Linked DNA regions of Homo sapiens: region 1 is linked to region 2. A link means that fine-mapping ties the variant in region 2 to the expression of a gene that starts in the linked region. Tissue or cell type: pancreas. Region 2 holds a variant in brackets; the other region holds the start of a gene. All regions are shown on one strand. Distances are from middle to middle.

Region 1 (10,176 bases), 21 kb before region 2:
TTGTGCCCCAAACCTCCCAATTCATAGGTTGAAACTCTAACCTCCAGTACCTTAGATGTGATTGTATTTGAAGATAGGGCCTTGAAAGAGGTCGTGAAGGTTGAATGAGCCTGGGTGTGGTGGTTCACACTTGTAATCCCAGCACTTTGGGAGGCCAAGGCAGTGAATTGCTTGAGCCCAGTTCAAGACAAGCCTGGGCAACATAGTGAAACCCAGTCTCTATAAAATCTACAAAAAAATTAGCTGGGCATGGTGGCTCAGGCCTGTAGTCCCAGCTGCTTGGGAGGCTGAGGTGGGAGGATGGCTTGAGCCCAGGAGACCGAGGCTGCAGTGAGCTGAGATCACACCACTGCACTCCAGACCCTGTCTCAAATTAAAAAATTTTTTAAAAAAAGGTTGAATGAGGTAATAAGGGTGGGGCTCTAATCCAATAAGACGGGTGTCCTTCTAAAAAGAGGAAGGACCAGGGATGTGCATGCACAGAACAAAGGTGATGTGAGGACAGAAAGAAGGTGGCCATCTGCAAGCCAGAGAGAGAGGCCTGAGGAGAAACCAAACCCACGGACACCTTGTACTCAGACTTCCAGCCTCCAGAATTCTGAAAAATAAATTTCTGTTGTTTAAGCCACCAGACTGCAGTATTTTGTTATGGCAGCTCTAGCTGACTAACACACAGGCAAGGCTGGGACTGTAGCTAACTGTCGGGATTTGGGAGCTTGCTAGGTGGCAGCTGAGGTGCTAATGTCCTTACAGCCACCAGGTCCAGTGGCAGCCTCCTGGTGCCCAGCTTCCTCACTACAGCACAAGTAACAGCTCAGTGGTCATTCTAGGAGTTACACTGGAGATGGCCCAGCCTAGAGCTTGCTATTCTAGCCCTTTGTGAAATGTGGAAGCACTGAAGTCCGTATATCAAATCCTGTATCCACATGGCCATCTTAAAGGCTCAGGATAGGAAAACCAGTTGTCATAGTCCGTTCAGGCCACTATAAAAAACATCATAAACTGGGTAACTTGTAAACAACAGAAACTTACTTCTCAGAGTTCTGGAGGTTGGCAAGTCCAAGATCAAGGTGCCAGCTGATTCTATCTCTTGCTGCGTCCTCATAAGGCAGAAGGGGTGAGGGGTTTCTCTCTTGGGCCTCTTTTTATAAGGACATTAGTCCCATGAGGGCTACATTTCATGACCTAATCACCTCCCAGAGGCCTCCCATGCCCAATACCATCAACTTGGGGTTAGAAATTTAACACATGAATTTGGGGGTTGAAGGGGGGACACAGACATTCAGACCATAGCATTGGCATGGAACCACAGGACCCTTGGAGATTGAGAAGGGCATAGGTGATCAGGGATTCAAGGGTATTTGCTGGGTCATAACCAGTAGAGTAGAATGTTTCCAGTGAGGGCCTGTAAAAAACTATGGACAACCAGCTTCAAACACCTGGTAGGCCTTGTGGGTGAGACAACACCTTGGGCAATACTAGCCATGGAAGATGTTTTCTGCACTCTTCTCTGTTTTGGCCCTGGAAGAGTCAGAAACCAGTTTACAAGCTTGGGAGACTGAGAAACACTAGGTGGGGGAAGCAGAAGAGAAATTGTTGTTTCTCCCCAGTCCCTACTCTCTCACCACCACTGCACACAGGTACACACCCACATCAGGTGCTGCCTGAGGAGAGAAGATTTACTTTAAATCAAGTTCAAGGTTCTGAGTATTACATGGAATTGAACATTATACGATTTAGGATTATATAGATGAAGATTATGTTTAGTTATTTATTTGTTTATTTTTATTTTATTTTTTTTTTTGAGACAGAGGTTGGGACTTATTACTTCTGTGTGAATAGAAAAACTACAGGACTGCTGGGCGTGGTGGCTCACGCCTGTAATCCCAGCACTTTGGGAGGCCTAGGCGGGTGGATCACTTGAGGTCAGGAGTTCGAGACCAGCCTGACCAACATGGAGAAACCCCGTATCTACTAGAAAATATAAAATTAGCCAGGCATGGTGGCGCATGCCTCTAATCCCAGCTACTCGGGAGGCTGAGGCAGGAGTATCACTTGAACCTGGGAGGCGGAGATTGCCGTGAGCCAAGATCGCACCATTGCACTCCAGCCTGGGCAACAAGAGTGAAACTCTGTCTCAAACAAACAAACAAACAAAAAACCCTACAAGACTACCTAAGTTTTCACCGAGGAGCAAGAGACTCATTCTCTGAACAGAATAACTTGTAGAGAGACAAGGGAATGCAACATAAAGACAGTTTCTGATTACATCTCCTTAAATTCTGCTTGTTCACTGGTTATAGAGACTTAATCTGGAGATCAATTTTTAATTGTTCTAGTGTTTTGCCTTTAAAGGCAAACTAAATGTTGTTGTGATATTTGAACAGTATTTTGTACTGACAAAAACACATTTTAGGCCCATGGATGTTCTACCTTCGTCTCTATTTGTATTAGTCCGTTCTTGCACTGCTATAAAGAAATACCTGAGACTCAGTAATTTATAAAGAAAAGAGGGTTAATTTGCTCACAGTTCTGCTGGCTATACAGGAAGCATGATGGCTTCTGCTTCTGGGGAGGCCTCAGGAAACTTACAATCATGGCAGAAAGTAAAGGGGAAACACGCAAACATGGCCAAAGAAGGAAGATGAGAGAGAGAAGGGGGAGGTGCACACCACCCACTTTTAAACGACCAGATCTCGCGATAACTCACTCACTATTACTAGGATAGCACTGAGGGGATGGTGCTAAGTCATTCATGAAGGGCCACCCTCATGATCCAATCACCTCCCACCAGGCCCCACCTCCAACAGTGGGGATTACAATTCAACATGAAATTTGGTGGGGACATAGAACCAAACTATATCACCATTTGATAAGCAGCCTAGGGTTCTTTGAGGTCGGTTTTGTACAAAAAAAAAAGGGACTACAAGGGTCTCTGTTTGTTTATAAAGTAATAGTTGCTTTAGCAAAATTACAAATCTACAAATCTACTTTCTCTTAACCTTTTAAATTCAAATTACATACTGTTTTAAACTATTTACTCACCCGATAAAATTTTACAATTACTGTAAGGAGGCACTTTTACTGTTTAGTTAATTCTCCTAAACATTTCAAGCAACTTTTACAAATTTAATATTTGACTTTCTTTTCAAGTACTTCAATTCTATAACAAAACTCTAAGTAATTCTTATAAATATAGTAAGTTAAATTCATTTTCATACCCATTTCACCTGAAATTGAATTGTACATAAATTTTATATACTATTTTACATATAAAGACTCTATGTTTTTAAGATTAAATATAAGTCATTACTTATTACCTTATTACATAAGTTAAATAAAAGCGTAAATCAATTAGCTGATTACTTTTTTTTTTTTTTTTGAGACAGAGTCTCACTCTGTTGCCCAGGCTGGAGTGCCGTGGCACGATCTCCGCTCACTGCAACCTCTGCCTCTTGGGTTTAAGCGATTCTCCTCCTCAGCCTGCCGAATAGCTGAGACTACAGGAGCACGCCACCATGCCTGGCTAATTTTTGTATTTTTAGTAGAGACAGGGTTTCACTATATTGGCCAGGCTGGTCTCGAACTCCTGACCTCAGGTGATCCACCGCCTTGGTCTCCCAAAGTGTTGGGATTACAGGTGTGAGTCACCGCACCGAGCCACACATTTTCACTTTTTTAGAAATGGGGCCTACGTTGCTCAGAACTCCTAGCCTCAAGGGATCCTCCCACCACAGCCTGTGGAGTTGCTGGGATTACAGGTGAAAGTCACCATGCTGGCTCACATTTTAAGTTGGAATCACAAAACTAATTTCTTTTGCATCCTAGTGAACTAAATTGTCGTAAACATTGTATGTGCTTATACCAACATATACACGTTATTCTTAAATTTAATCACAAACTTTAATGTTAAAATATCAGTGTATCTAACAATCTATGTTATTTTATACCTAAGTATTTTTTTGAGATGGGATCTCACTCTGTCGACCCCTTTGGAGCGCAGTGGCACAATCATAGCTCACTGCAATCTCCACCTTCCAGGATCAAGCGATCTCCCTACCTCACTGGGACTACAGGTAAACTTTTGTATTTGTTTTTCTATTTCTAGAGATGAGGTCTCCCTGTGTTGCCCAGGCTAGTCTCAAACTCCCAGGCCCAAGCGATCCTCCTGAATAGCTGGGATCACAGGTGTGCGCCCCTACGCCTGGCTAATTTTTTTTTTTTTTTCTAGAGATGGAGGTCTCACTATGTTGCCCAGGCTGTTCCCCAACTCCTGGGCTGAAGCTATCCTCCCGGCCTCTCAAAGTGCTGGGATTACAGGCGTGAGCCACTGCTTTCGGCCCTTAATTCTACATTAGCCAGAATTCAAAGGCATTTACCCACTTAAGAAAATAGGGCACTCTCAGCTTGTTGAGATTCACAGTACACTGATAATGCTTATCTCACAGAGAGATATTCCTGAAAATCATGATTTTAAAGACTGCGCCATATGCTGGCATGTCTGCACCAGAATTTCCTTTGCGCCTCCCTGTTGGTTTGCTCCACTTTTTCACTGAGTCAGACCGTTGAACACCGTGGACACACTGTCTTGCGTTTCCGAATATTTCCTAGAATACGGACGTTTCCTAAGACTCACGATAAAGATTTTCTGATCGTCTCTCCAAAACCTTGCCACCAATTTGCACTCCCACGAATCCTGTTACCGTGACTATCTCGCCATGCCCTCCCTAGCACTGAGCGTGATCTCTAGTATCATTTTCCATCGTTGCTAATTTGAACATGAGCAGATGGAGTCCTATTATTTGGGGTCATTAATTTCGTAGCAAGTGCAGTTGAAGGTGTTTTGCATGTTCATTGTGCAGTGCGCGCCGTAGTCTGCACAGTTTGGCCGGCAGGTGGGATGAAGGGCGGGGCTGGCGGAGCGCGCCCGCCGCCTGGTAGGCCAGTTCGGAGCGGAGCCAACGCTATCCCGGGCCCCACGGCCAGGGGGCGCTGCGGCCCCCCCAATCCCCCGCCCCGTCCGGGCTGGGGCGGAGGAGCGGGCGGGGACCAAAGGTTGGTGTCTTTGCGCTCGGACCTTCGCCAGAGGGGCCGGGACATCATGACGGTGGGAGCCAGGCTCCGAAGCAAGGCGGAGAGCAGCCTCCTGCGCCGCGGGCCCCGAGGGCGAGGGCGAACCGAGGGGGACGAGGAGGCGGCCGCCATCCTGGAGCACCTGGAGTACGCGGACGAGGCGGAGGCGGCGGCCGAGAGCGGGACGAGCGCGGCGGACGAGCGGGGCCCGGGGACCCGGGGCGCGCGGAGGGTGCACTTCGCCCTCCTGCCCGAGCGCTACGAGCCACTGGAGGAGCCGGCGCCGAGCGAGCAGCCCAGGAAGAGGTACCGGAGGAAGCTGAAGAAGTACGGCAAGGTAGGGGCCCTGCGCCACCACTGCCCGGGGGGCGCGGGTGTGGTGTCCCGCGGGGGAGCGGGAGCCGGGTCCTTACCATCGACTCACCCAGTTTCTCCGGGCTGCACCTGCGACCCCTCCGCCCCCGCTCCCATTCCCTCGCCGGAGGGAAGCCGCGAGTTGCGAGTCGTGATAGAAACTTAAATCGGGGGTTGCGCTGGGTGGTCCCTGCTGTGCCTGCTATTGCGCTCCTGGCTTCTTAAGAACATTCTCAAGGGGCTCCTACCGCGGTGGTTTTTATGTAAGATCAGGAATCAGTTTCCTGATTACAGATGGGAATACTGAAGCGTTAGCGCGGCAGGTGACTTGGAGAAGGTGGCCCAGTTGGAAAGAAAGAAATTGCAACCCAGTGTATTTGTTTTCCAGTAACATCCCCTCCAGGATATCCCACTAGTTGAGAAATGTTTGGGTTACTCTCCCAAATATTCCCAAGGTTATTTCCCGAGCCTGGGAGCGCAACAAATACATAAATAGGCGCTCGTTGAATTTTTCTCGTCTAGCCAACTATCAGTGTACTCTGGGGCCTTCAAAACATTCTGCCGTTTGTCTCGGGGAGATGGGGTTAGGAAGAATGAATATGGGAGAAAATGACAGTTTCCTTCGCGGAAATCAAAGCGCAGATGCAGTTCCCAGGTGTCTCTGCATGGAAACAGTCGAAGCTGCTGCCGGAAGCTCTGCTGGCCTGGACAAGGCCACCCAGAATAAAGTCACAGAAGTTACTGTGTCCTGGCCAAAGGCCACGGGCCCCATCTGATTTATTGTCTATTTATCTGTGTTGCCCAATGCCGTCTTACACCTGAAGCCATTCAGTCTCCATGCCTGGGAGCTTAGGTTTATCATCCTCTTTAAAGGTATGTCAGCAGCTTCTGGAGCAGAATACAGGCAGGGGTAAAACTATAAAGTTGGGTCTTTCAGGCTTAGAGCCCTGCTAGGACGATTCATCTCTGCTTTGGGTCCCAGTTGAGCACAAAGAAGCCATCATGTCCCTCTCCATTGGTGAACTGATACTGCAGAAACCTCAGCTCAAGGACTAGGACTTGAAGATATTTTGGGGGCACTCATTATGCGTCAGGCATTGTGCTGAGCAGTAGAGATGCGAAAATGAATACAGTGCAGCCCTGCCCTAGAGAAGGGCACAGCCTCCCAGGGAGACACTGACATAGCTGGCTCCCCCCGCCCCCGGGGGGGCTTCAGGGCACAGAGCTCAGGCAGTTCACTCCTCAGCGGTGAGCTTGTAAACTCAGGGAAGTTTTCAAATCACGGTGACATGAAAACTGGGCACAGAAGGATGAGTTAAGATTTCACCAGATAACAGTGAAGTGGTATGAAGTAGGCACACTTCATCCCCACTAGAACGGCTACTCCAAAAAATGTCCAAACAAACCGAATAACAAATGTTGGCGAGAATGTAGAGAAATTGGAACCATTGTACATTGCTGGTGGGAATGTAAAATGGGACAGCTGCTGTGGAAAACAATTTGGGAGTTCCTTAAAAAGTTCAGTGTAGACTTATTCTGTGATCTAGCAGTTCCACTCCTAGGGATGTAACCAAAGAATTGAAAACAGGTACTCAAATCAATGTTTATATACACATTTTAATGGAATTATTATTTACAATAGTCAAAAGGTGGAAACAACCCAAATGTCCCTAAATGGATGAATGCATAAACAAGTGTGTTATATACATACAATGGAATAGTATTCAGCCATAAAAGGAAGGAAATGTACTAATCCATGCTACAATATGATGAACCTCTAAAAATATTATGCTAAGTGAAGTAAACAAGACCCGCAAGATCACATATTGTGCGTATGATTCCATTTGTATGGAATGCTTAGGATAGGTCAACCCATGGAGATGGAACACAGATTGGTGGTTGCCAGGGACTGCGGGAAAGAGGAATGGAGCCCATCTGCTTAATGGGTAATGTGTTTTTTCCTGGGGATGATGAAAATGTTTTGGAACTAGATAGAAGTGGTGGTTGCACAACAATGTAAATGTACTAAATGCCACCGGGCTGTACGCACTTTAAAATGGTGAATTTTATGTTATGTGAATTTTGCCTTAACTAAAACAAACAAAAAAAACAAGATTTCAGTGGATAGAGAAGTGGTGTCATCTCAGGTAGAGGGGCCATCACAAGCCCAGCTGTGGGCATGAAAGCTCTAGAGTGTTGCACGCTAGTTCAATGGACCCAGGAGGCCAGGTGAGAGGATGTCGTCAGGTTAGGGTTGGATCTCTCCTTTCTGCCCTTCAAAAGTGACTTCAGCTTCTACTTTCTTGGAGCCACCTGAGAGGGTCACCAGGCTCAAACATGGAGATATAAAGCAGGTGACCCCTCTTTGTTCCCCGAGACCCCAGCTCCCCTCTGAGAGAGTAGTTGGGTAGAAAGCTCTACTCAGATCAAAGAATTCCAAATGCACTCTCTTAAATGACACTGAAATAGTGGTTGAGAGATATTTTATGTTTCTTTGCATTTCATTTCTCAAATCTGTGTTTTTAACAGTGTTCCAGTTAATGAACTATTTTAGTAGATTTTTTTTCCCTAAATTACAAAGTGACAAGTAGCTTTTAAAGTATAACAGGCTGAGCAAAATGGATGTACAAATACCAAAAATGTCACGTTTAATGCAGGCGATTGTCATTCTGATCTTGTTTATAATGGATCACTCTTGATTGTTAAGCTTGTTCCCAGAGAATATGTTTTTCTTTTGTTGTTTCAAACATGTAAGTAAAATTCCCCCAGTGATTCTTATCACACATTTAAAGAACTGTATCTCTTAGCAACATCACATACCCACACATGCGCATGCCCCAGCCCAGTGTCTCTTTGAGACATCAACAGGGTAATGTCCAGGAAAGCAGTGTCTAGAGAAGACACAGACATTACTTGGTTCTTGCAAAGCTCCTCATTTAGCGGGAGAGGTACCAAAGGAAACACTCAGCCTCTTTCTACATGCTCAGGATACAGTAATGAGCACAACAGAGTCCCTGCCCTCCTTCTGTTACTGTGAGGGACCCTGTAATTTAAACTATTGAAAGCTCAGCTGGGTGTGGTGGCTCACACATGTAATCCCAGCACTTTGGGAGGCTGAGGCGGGTGGATCACCTGAGGTCAGGAGCTGGAAACCAGACTGACGAACATGGTGAACCCTGTCTCTACTAAAAATACAAAAAGATTAGCCTGGCGCGGTGGTGCATGCCTATAATCCCAGCTACTTGGGAGGCTGCAGCAGGAGAATCGCTTGAACCTGGGAGGTGGAGGTTGCAGTGAGCTGAGATCGCGCCATTGCACTCCAGACTGGGCAACAAGAGCAAAACGCGGTCTCAAAAAAAAAAAAAAAAAAAAAAGCTCAAGTAAGCCAGAAGTCATAGGAAATTATAGTCTTAAGAAACTTTCCCAAACAGACAACAAAAATATTGGGTTTATCTATCACCACCACAAACCTAAATTGCTATGTAATCAAAAGAAGCAGATGTTATTTAGCAGTAATAATAGCTGACATTGGGGGGCACTTATACTGCCTGCAGTTTGTGCCAGGCCCTGTTCTCAGTGCTTTGCTTACATGATCTCATTTACTCCTCTTAACAACCCAATGAGGTGGTTACTAAATATTCCCATTGTATAGGTGAGGAAACCGAGGCCATGGGAAATTAAGTAAGTGATAGAGTTGGAATTCAAGCCCAGGGCATGAGTGGTTAACTAGAAGCTTACATATTGCCTTTATTTAAAAAGGGAAACATAGTATGGGGGTTAAGGTCATAGGCCCTGAAGTGAGATTTCTTTGGGATTGAACTTCAGCTCTGCCCCTAACCAGATATATACATGTGGACAGATGTAATCTCTCTGTGCTTTGAATGATTGAAGTCTGATAGACAAAGGCCACCAGGGACATGCCAGTAGCCAATCCACGTTAGGTTTATGTGCTTAGGGCTACAAGGGAGAGTGCATGCCAGAGGAATTGTGGGGTCTTCAAAAAGTGGAGATCTCAAGTAACGAATTGAATATTTGAGTCTGAACTAAAGAGTTCTTCAAATCTAGGAGATACTTGTAGTCATTAGAAATGGATGAGACCATCTAAGGAGAGACTGTAGGGAAAGAAAGAGAGAAGGAAAGACCCAGGACTGAGTATTGAACAACACCAACATTTTAAAGTCTGGTAGAAGGGATAATTTAGCAAAGAAAGCTGAGGAGGAGCTCCCTATTTAGGTAGGGGAGAACTAAGAATATGGAGTCAAAGACGCCACATGATTATTTCATAAAGTATGTCAAAAGCTGCTGAGAGGTCAGGGAGAGAAAGACAGAAAAGCGTCCACTGGGTCAGGCAGCATGGGGGTTGTAGATGGCCATGACCAGACAGTCCCTCATGGGTTGGGGTAGGAGCCGGAGTCAGAGGGAATAAGAAGCGCAGACATGGAGGCAGTATATGTGGTTGGCTCTTTTGGCTGGCTTGGCACGATGGAGGGCAGAGACTGGGGCAGGATATGGAGTCACGGTGATACCCGAGCATGTATGTAAGCTAATGGGATCCAATGGAGAGGAAGCGAATGATGGAGGTGGTGAAGGGAAAGCCAAGATCAAGGTGGGAGAAGGCACTGACACCAAGTATCAAGGGAATGGCTTGGGGGAAGAAGACCACTTTCTCCACCGTAACACAGGCAATGCGGGAGAAGCCAGGGGCAGCCACAGGCAGGGCTGTTGAGAGTGGTGGAAGGTGAACGTGTT
Region 2 (10,176 bases):
TCAGCCCCAGGAAGCAACCTGAGCGCTATACTGGGAGTCAGCAAGGCAATCAGCCACATGTGACCTCGAACCAGTCACCCACCTAGCTGAATCTGGGCATCTTCTGCAAAACAGTGCGGTTGAAGTAGATGGTACATTCATCCCTCCCTGCTCTGGCATGCTGAGTCTGAGGTGTTTTCTCCTGTCCTGCCTCTAAGAAAATCACCTCTTGTTTTTTTTGGATCATTGTCTTTCATTTCATGAGGGCCATTTCCTATTGGGCTCCCTCTTGACTTCTTAAGCAGCTCCCAAGGCCACTCTGACAATATCAGGCCTGCCGCCTCCTCTCACGCTGCCCCCCACAAAGGAAACAAAAACAATGGGAATCGCTTCTGCCCCATCTCGGATAGGTATCTGTGTTGTTTTGCTGGCCCTGCGGCTGTTTTTCCCAACCCCACCATCCGCTCTGCCCTGGGCTCCCTCCTGACCAAGGTTCCCAGTGGCAGAACAGTCAGGATTGGCCAGGAGAGGCCACTCCCGGCCTTCACCCCAGCCTCCCCACTCTGCACTTTAAATTCTGCTTCTCTCTCAAAGCAAGGGCCCCGCCTGAATGAAACCTTCCCTGATCTCAGCAGCTGGAATGAATCAGCCTCTGGACAGGGGAGCACGATGTGTGTCCCGATATTCAGCCCCTGTCTTATTCTGCTGCGTATGAGAATTACCTGTTCACAGATATGGTTTCCCCTACTGGCCCCAGCCTGATGTTTGCATATAGTGGGTGCTTCATGTTTGGCTGGGAGAGGGAAGGAGGGAAAGAAGAAGGCAAGAAAGGAAACAGTACAAATCTCTATAGGAGGCTTGGTACATCTAGGGCAACATTAGTCTCTGTTCATTGTTTTATGTCCAACATAAAAATCTGTAGGGAGTGTGTGGGCTCTGGGTACTTCCATTGGATAGCTCTGCTCAGGAACAAGGAAGTAGGCTGTGAGGGAGGTCTCCCTGGGTCACTGCTGACAGCCCTGAGAAAGCTGCTCCAACGGCCCTGCTGCTGCACTCAGGTACCCTTTGCCTGGAGCAGAGTGTTCAGAAAGTGTGCGTGGGTGGGAAGGGTGGGACCCTCAGCTATAGTTCTGGGGGCTGTCCACAGGCTGCCCTAGGTGTGGTCCGGATGTGGATGGCATTTGTCCCATGTGTTGCCTGGCCTGACTGAGGAACAGCAGGATGCCCAGGAGGAGCAGAGGGACAGGGAGCTGGGTTGGGGGGCGTGGAGCTGGGGATGGGGCCATCACGCAGGCCTCATGGGCCGTGTGAAGACTTGGCTCTTGCTCAGAGTGGGATGACGCACTGCTGCACGATTTTGAACAGAGGAGGGCAGGGCCCTAAAGGGAGAGACGCTCATTAGTTCATCTCACAGATGAGGACACTGAAGCAAAGTGACGAACTCGCCTAAGCCCCAGCCCCACCGCATCTAAGGTGTGACTTCCTCACAGCCCCCTGCTCATGACCAGCCCTGTCCGTACTTACTTCTCCATCAGTTTGCTCACTTGTTTGCAGGTTCACTCCCCCAACTCGAATGTCACCTCTGTGAGGGCAGGGACAGGTTTGTTCGCTGCTGAATCCTCATGCCTTCAACGATGCCTGGCATGGAGCAGGGGCTCTGTGTCCATCTGCTGAAGAGTGAATGAGATCTTGTGATGTCTTAGTCATGTGTGCTGCTGTAATAGAATACCACAGACAAAGTAATTTATAAAGAATAAAGTTATCTTCTCACAGTTCTGGAGGCTGGGAATTCCAAGGTCAAGGCATTGGCAGGTTCAGTGTCTGCTGAGGGCTGCTCTCTACTTCCAAGATGGCGCCTTGTTGCTGCGTCCTCTGGAGGAAAGGAAGGCTGTCCCCTCACATGGACAAAGGCAGAAGGGCAAGAGGGGTGAACTCTCTGTCAAGCTCCTTTATAAGGGCCCTAATCCCATTCATGAGGGAGGAGCCCTCGTGGCCCAATCACATTTTGAAAGACCCAACTCTTAATACCATCCCATTAGCAACACCTGAATTTTGGAGGGGACACATTCAAACCATAGTACTGATAAGATAGGAAATGTATATTTGGTCTCTGCCCCTGGTTCCTGTTACAGAGCTCCTAAAACTCTTATAATTTCCTGGGCGATAGGAACATATTTTGTTCTAATGAGGCACCTCTTGGTGGGCTCCTAGATGGGGGCTGGGCATCAGAAAGAACAAGCCATGTTTAGAAGCTTGGAGATTTCGGCCCCATCCCCCATCCTCTGAGAAGAAGGGAGGGGCTGGAGACTGAGTTAATAATTGATCGTGCCCATGTGATGAAGCCTCCAAAAATTCCCTGAGCTTCACTCAAGTGGTGGGAGTTGAACAATGAGAACACATGGACACAGGGAGGGAAACATCACACTTGGGGGCCTGTCAGGGAGTGGGGGCAAGGGGAGGGAGAGCATTAGGGAAAATACCTAATGCATGTGGGGCTTAAAACCTAGATGATGGGTTGACACGTGCAGCAAACCACCATGGCACATGTATACCTATGTAACAAGCCTGCATAGGTTCTGCACATGTATCCCAGAAATTAAAATTAAAAAAAATAAATGATTTAAAAAACAGAAAAAAAAATTCTTGAGGGCAATATATACCTCATTTACACTGATGTGATTATTACACATTGTATGCCTGTATCAAAAATATCAATATCTCAGGTACCCCATAAATATATACACTTATTATGTACCCACAAAAATTAGAAATGAACAAAATAGCCATTCTGACTGGTATGAAATGGTATCTCATTGTGATTTTGATTTGCATTTCTCTAACAGGATCAATTACACCCAACCTCAGCATCATAGAATATACTAATGTAAAAAACCTGCACATGTGCCCCCGAACCTAAAAGTTGAAATTAAAAATAAATAAATGAAATGAAACTTAAAAAAAATCCCTGAACTACAAGGTTCAGAGAGCTTCCTGGTTGGTAGACACATCACATGCTGAGAGGGTGGCACACCACAGTTCCTTGGGGACAGAAGTTCCTGCACTTGAGACCTTTCCAGACCTTGCCCTATATACCTCTACATCTGGCTGTTCGTCTGTATCCTTATCACAGCCTTTATTACGATAATAAACTGGTAAACATAAGTGTTTCTCTGAGTTCTGTGAGCCATCCTAGCATATTAATTGAACCTAAGGAAGAGGTCATGAGAACTCTGATTTATAGCTGGTTGATCAGAAGTATAGATGACAACCTACCACTTGGGATTGGCGTCTGAAGTAGGAGGCGGTCTGGCAGGACTGGGCCCTTAACCTGAGGGATCTGACTGACTCCAGGTGGCTCAGGTCCAAATCGATTGAATTATAGGACACCCAGCTGGAGTCTACCGGAGAAGTGTTTAGTGTGTGGGGAACATCTGGTCTCAGAAGTGTTTTGTGTTGAGTGTTGGGTGTGTGAGTAGGAAAAATACTTTGACTTTGTTCCTATCTCTTATAGTAAACAAGGACAGACAAACACAGCCCAGAGAGGAGGTGCTGGCATGACCGGTGCTGGGTTCTCTCCAAAAAGTCAGCACTCAAGCTCCCATACAAATTCTGGGGCTCCATGCCAGCCTGAAGTCCAATATGTGGGTGTCTGCTTAGGGTCCTACCCTAACCCACCGTGACACTGTACCTTGGAGAGTCAAAGAAGTGTGCTTGGCTCTATAGTGTCATTCATTACCAATTCCTTTCACCTACTGATTTATTTATTTTGAGGCAGGGTCTTTGTCACCCAGGCTGGAGTGCAGTGGTGCAATCACAGCTCACTGCAGTCTCAACTTCCTGAGTTCAAGGGATGCCCTGCCTCAGCCTCCCAAGTAGCTGGGACTACAGGCATGCACCACCATGCCCGGCTAATTCTTTCATCTATTTAGTCACTCAGACATTTAACAAATGTTACCTGACACCTGCTCTGCACCTGTCACTAGGCTGGGACAGTGCACAAGCAACCAGGGGCATGGTGCCTGCCTCCTTGCCTCCTACTGAGGGGCAGACCAAGGATAAAAGACAAATGAGTAGTCAGCTGCTATGGGGGAAGCAAATGAGGAGGCCTTAGCCTCCGGTGGATGGGCAGGGAGGCCTGTGGGAGGACTTGACAGCCTTGGGGCAGGCGCTCTGGGCAGGGATAAGAGCTGCGAGGTTGTCAGAAGGGATGCCTTCAGTGCCTTCAGGAGGGTGGGGGCTCAGCGTGGTTGGGAAGGGAAGCCAGTTTCGCTGGAGAGGGGAGAGGAAGGGAGTGGGGGTGGGAAGTGGAGGTGCCTTCTCCCCACTTCCTGTAGGCTGTATTGACAGCGAGGGGAAGTGAAGGGGAAACTTTTGATAGGCTCTAAGTAGTGGGGAGGCGTGGCAGTAGGATCCACTCCATGGTTTGAAAAGATCCCTCTAACTGCTATGGGAACAGGCTGGCCTGGGGTGTGCCTTGCTGAAGCAGAGAGGAGTGGAAGGGGCCTTGGGTGGTCCAGGAGCAATGGAAAAGAGAAAGCCCACTGGAGCCATATTGAGGAAATGGGTGCATTGGCTCAAGCCTGTAATCCCAGTGCCTTGGGAGGCCAGAGTAGGAGGATTGCTTGAGGTCAGGAGTTTGAGACCAGCCTGGGCAACATAGTGAGAACTCTGTCTCTAAAAAAATGAAAAATGTTTAGCTGAGCATGGTGACATGTACCTGTAGTCCCAGCTACTCAGGAGGCTGAGGCTGGAGGATCCCTTAAGCCCAGGAGTTTGAAGCTGCAGTGAGCTATAATTTTGCCACTGTACTCCAACCTGGGCAACAAAGAGAAACCCTGTCCCCAACCCCTTTGCCCCCCTACCCCCCAAAAAAGGAAAGGAAAGAAAACAGAGGTAACAAAATTTGTCT[A/G]TGTAAGTGTGGGACTTAGGGAAAGCGTGGAACCAAATAATTCTCTGGGATTTTGGTCTGAGCGACAGGGAAGGCACCAGCTGGAGGAAGAAACAGGAGAATGTGGAGACTTTTGAGCCCAAGGCCAAGATTACTGTTTATTTGTTTAATTTGCACAATGCCTCTATGCTGGGCCAGAAAGACAATGTGCAAAGCCAAGCTCTGGGGTTTTCTGCTGCAGCCAAAGTATTTCCTGTGCCCTTGTCATTTTTACCTTGGAACCTGTACAGTCACATGGTTGGCCCCGTCCCTGACCTTGTCCTCCCTGGGGGAGACAGAGACTTACTGTACACACACTCCCCATTGGTGTCTCCTGGCTCTGGAGTCTGCTTCAAGGCACATTTCAGGCCCTCCTGAAGGGGACAGAAGTGGTGCCTTTTGTGCATATAAGGCAGAACTGAGTGGAGGAAATTAACACGCGCGCCTCAGTAAAATTCAGGCCCTGCTAGGTGCTCAGTATCACGTCATTTAATCCTCATAAGAGCCCAGTAACATAGATGTTATTATCCTTCTTATTCAAATGAGGAAGTGAGACCGAGAGGCCTCTCCTTGCACAAGGCCCCACAGGAGACATCTCAGGCTGGGTGGATTCCACACCGTTCTTGGTCATGCCTTCCCTCCAGATAGATCCCGAAAGGCTTTTTCTGCTCTGGTTCTCCCACTCCCCTCAACACACACATACATTTTATGCTTGTCATCCAGGTGGACTTTACACTAGGCAGTTCCCCTTTCCCAAGCACTTCTCTTCCCATTTGAGGGTCTGTGGGTTCCCCATGTTGATTTCTCCAAAACTTAGGGAAGAAACAACTTTGTGGCTTCCAAATACAGTATTGGGTTCAGTGAAATCCCCCTCTCCTTAGGGAAATATGGGCAGCAAAAAAAATGTTTTTTTTGAGACGGAGTTTCCCTCTTGTTGCCCAGGCTGGAGTGGAATGCAATGGCGCGATCTCAGCTCACTGCAACCTCCACCTCCCGGGTTCAAGCAATTCTCCTGCCTCAGCCTCCTGAGTAGCTGGGATTACAGGCTCCCGCCACCACGTCCGGCTAATTTTTTTGTATTTTTAATAGAGACAGGGTTTCACCATGTTGGTCAGGCTGGTCTTGAACTCCTGACCTCAGGTGATCCACCCACCTCGGCCTCCCAAAGTGCTGGGATTACACGCGTGAGCCACGGCTCCTGGTCGGGCAGCAACTTTTATGCAGCGCACCCCCTTGTTATTCAGTTAAGGGGTGATGTTTCAGGCAGAGGCTGAGGGAAGGGAGAACTGCTCCTGGGGAAATAGAGTTTAGATGGATCCGGATTGGCTGGAGCCATAGGCTCACACTCTTAGAGATGATTGCTCTTGCGGGGAGCCAGCCAGGTGAGCTTGGGCACAAAGATCTCTAGGGGCCCCTGCACCCAGGATAACACTGCGTGGTGGACCCAGACGTGCCTGCAGATGAGTTACTTTAAACCTTTCAAGGCTTTAAATGTCCTAAAAGTGTTTTTGTTTGATTACTATTTATTGTTCGTCTTCTGAATATTTACTCACAGAAGATTTGAATGGAGGAAAGAGGGATATGAAAAACACTGGTAATTCCACCACTCAGACATACGGTGATGGACATTTGCTAGATCATTTGATGCCTTCTCCAGCACACTGTGAAGTGACTGTGTGGAATGAACCATAATCTTCTATTATTGCTTGTTCGGGAGGCCTCCAGTGTTCTCTTCTGGATAGATCTCTGCAAGATCTTTGCTTCCCAAACTGCACACCACTGTGCTGTGCTGGAAGCATGAGAAACCAGACGACAAACGGGGTCTGCGGGCTTGGAGCTACTGTTTATGTGATGGAGGAGGCATTTTAAATCTATCTGGAAAGGGTGGATTACTTGATAAATGATGATGGGACAATTCGCTATTTATGTAAAAAATAATAATTTAAATAGATCCCTATATCATGCCATATTCTCACCCAAATTTCAGATAGAACTGTGGGTTAAATTTAAAAAAAAGTGTGTGTGTAATATAAATTATAATATATGCAGAATTGAAACAAAACACTTGTAAATTAAAAGGAAAAAAAGAACATTGCAAATACATCCTCAATAATAATAGAAATGCAAATTAGCACAAAAATACACCATTATAACCTATTCAATTGACTTAAAAAAATCCATTGCTTCCTTATACAAACCCTTGGCTACAGCCAAACTTTCTGAACATGTCCTTCACAGTTTTTTTTTTTTTTTTGAGACAGGGTCTTTCTCTGTCGCCCAGGCTGGAGTGCAGTGGAGCCATCTCGGCTCACTGCAACCTCCGCCTCCCAGGTTCAAGAGATTCTCCTGCCTCAGCCTCCTGAGTAGCTGGGATTACAGGCGCCTGCCACCACACCTGGCTACTTTTTTTGTACTTTCAGCAGGGACAGGATTTTGCCATGTTGGCCAGGCTGGTCTCAAACTCCTGGCCTCAAGTGATCCGCCCACGTTGGCCTCCCAAAGTGCTGGGATTACAGGCGTGACCTACCACACCCGGCCATGTCCTTCACATTTCCATCTTTTCTGCCTTTGTCCATGATGTGATCAGCCTGCAGGACCACACGTCTAGGTCTTCTGTACTTTCCTACTTAGGAATTTTCACATTTTCAGGCCCAGCTGAAAGCTTTTTCTGAACCTCTCCCTATCTCCCTCTTCCTCTGGCTAGAGGACCCCTCCCACCTCTGAAATCCCTTAGCTCTGAAAGTGTTACTGATTTTACATTAGCTTATTGAACTGCAGTTTGCTTTATATTTGCATGCAAGGAATCCATTTTCCTGACTATAATGTAAGCCCTGTTTCTAAGTTGCTGCTGTATCCTCTAACAAACATTTTTATATAAGGACAGTCTTTTTAAAAAAAAACAGATTTAGTGGGATATCATTCACATATCATACAGTTTACCCATTTAAAGTGTATAATTCGATGGTTTTTACTATGTTTTCAGGGGTGTGCAAACATCACCAAAATCTAATTTAGAATGTTTTCATCACTTCAAAAAGAGACTATGTACCCATTAGTGGTCAATCCAAATTTTCTCCCAACCCCAGATACCTACCAACCAACTTTATTTTTCTATGGATTTGCCTATTCTGGACATTTCATATAAATGCAATAAAACAAAATGTGGCCTTTGATGACTAGCTTCTTTCACTCAGCGTGATGTTTTCAAGGTTCATCCATGTTGTAGCATGTATTAGTGCCTCATTTGTTTTCAGGGCTGAATAATATTCCATTGGTTGGATACATCACATTTTGTTCAGCCATTCATCCATTGATATTTGGGTTGTGTCTGTGTTTTTGTTTATTATGAATAATTTTGCTATGAACATTTGTGTACATATTTTGTGTGGACATGTATTCCCATTTCTCTTGGGTATACAACTATGTTTAACATGTTTTTCAAACCATTTTTTTTCCCTCTGTTCTCACATCAACACAGTAATAATGAACACAGAAGACTTCTATGACCTCAAAATATGTGGGTATTTCTCTCTACCAGCAAGCAAGCAATGAATTCTGTAGATGACACCCAAATGGTCATCCTCTAATTCAGTGCTGGTACTATCTACTTGGAGATAGTGTCAGATCTCACAGTTTGAGGGATCAGTCCCCTGAGACTGTGTCCCCCGCTTTAGACCCAGTCACAAGTCTGGGATTCCAAAACTTCTGATCAACCATCTTTAAGTTGGGGTTCCCATGCCCCCCTGGATTAATTTGCTGGATTAATTTGTGTTTGATTAGTTTGCTGGAGCAGCTCTCAGAACTGAGAAAAACAATTGTGTTTACAGGTTTATTATAAGGGCTATTACAAAAGATACAGATGAAGAGAGGCATAGGGTGAGGCATGGGGGAGGGAAAGCAGAACTTCCATGCCCTCTCCTGGCATGCCACCCTCCAGGATCTCCATGTTCCAACTATCTGGAAGCTCTCTGAACCATGTCCCTTTGGGTTGTCATTGAGGCTTTATTACATAGATACGGTTGACAACCATGTAGAAATGTGATTGGACAAAAAGTGCCTGATCTAAACCCAGTAAGCTTGTCTATTCAGACTTTTTGTGGCCTCTCTGCATAGCATTCCTTTCCCCAGGGTTTGAGGCAGGACTGCTTCTGGAATGAGAGTCTTTTGACCCACAGTTAGATTAAAGGCTTGCCTTGGGAAGGTGTAAAGAGGACAGGAGAAGGTCAGAGAGAGAGATTCTATTTCCTGAGGCCTGCTTCTGAGGCTAAAACACCTCAACATTATAGTAAAAGACTGTAACAAGGGCTAGTGGAGTTATTAGCCAGAAACCATAGAGGAAAACCTAAACATATAATCATAATATCACAAGTTATGAATGGAATTGCTGGGTTATTGGCAACTCCATGTAGAACATTTTGGAAAAACTGCCAAATTTTTTTCCATAGTGGCTACATCATTTTACATTACCATCAGGAATGTATGAGGGTTCCAGTTTATCTACATCTTCACCAGCATTTATTGTTATCTTTTTTATTATAGCCATCTTAGTGGGTGTGAGGTGATATTTCACCATGGTTCAATTTTTGTTTCCCTAATGATTAATGATGTGGATTGTCTTTTCTTATGCATGTTGGTCATTTATGTATCTTCTTGGAGTACTACCTATTCAAATGCTTTGTTTTAAAATTGAGTTACTTTTTCTGATTGTTGAGTTGTAGCAGTTCTTTATATATTCTGCATACAAGTCCCTTATATAATAAGATCTATAATGTGCCAATATTGTCTTCTACTCTGTGGGGTGTCCTTTCAATTTCTTGATGGTGTCCTTTGAAGTACAAAAGTTTTTAATTTTGATTTGTGAACTCCAAATATCTGAGAGGGTCTCAGTTAATTTAGAAAGTTTATTTACAAAGTTTGTTTTGCCAGTGTTGAGGATGCATGCCCATGATATAACCACACAAAGTCCTGATGACATGTGCGCACGGTGGACTCATGGAGAGCTAAAATGTCCGTGAATATCAAGCAAAACAGGAATTAACTGCATGGACTGTACTCATCTTTTTGACTTATTGCTTAAAACATTGCTGATCCTTTGTTTTGTTTTTCGGAGTCTTGAAACTTTTCTTTTGAGCTATTGACAGCTTTTAACAATTGAGTACACTCCTATGAACAAAATTTGGAGCATATTTGTTTCTCTCTACCTGATTTCTGAAGAATTTGGAAACTATTTGTGAGTATTCTTAACTTACGACAATACAGTTATTTGCATA

What was found. PIP is the estimated chance that this variant, and not a neighbour inherited with it, causes the effect.
Region 1: C1orf115 starts here. The variant in region 2 is fine-mapped to the expression of C1orf115 in pancreas (GTEx, PIP 0.91).

Annotation. Positions count from the first base shown.
Region 1 is chr1:220,685,302-220,695,477 of GRCh38, forward strand. It overlaps C1orf115 (chromosome 1 open reading frame 115), which reads left to right and starts at 5,062. Exons shown (of 2, transcript NM_024709.5): 1 at 5,062-5,410. The coding sequence starts at 5,102. RefSeq lists a silencer at 4,893-5,132.
Region 2 is chr1:220,706,136-220,716,311 of GRCh38, forward strand. No RefSeq gene overlaps it. Among named protein-coding and RNA genes, the nearest start is that of C1orf115, 21 kb to the left of the region's middle. The variant A/G (reference allele first, on the strand shown) is at 4,889.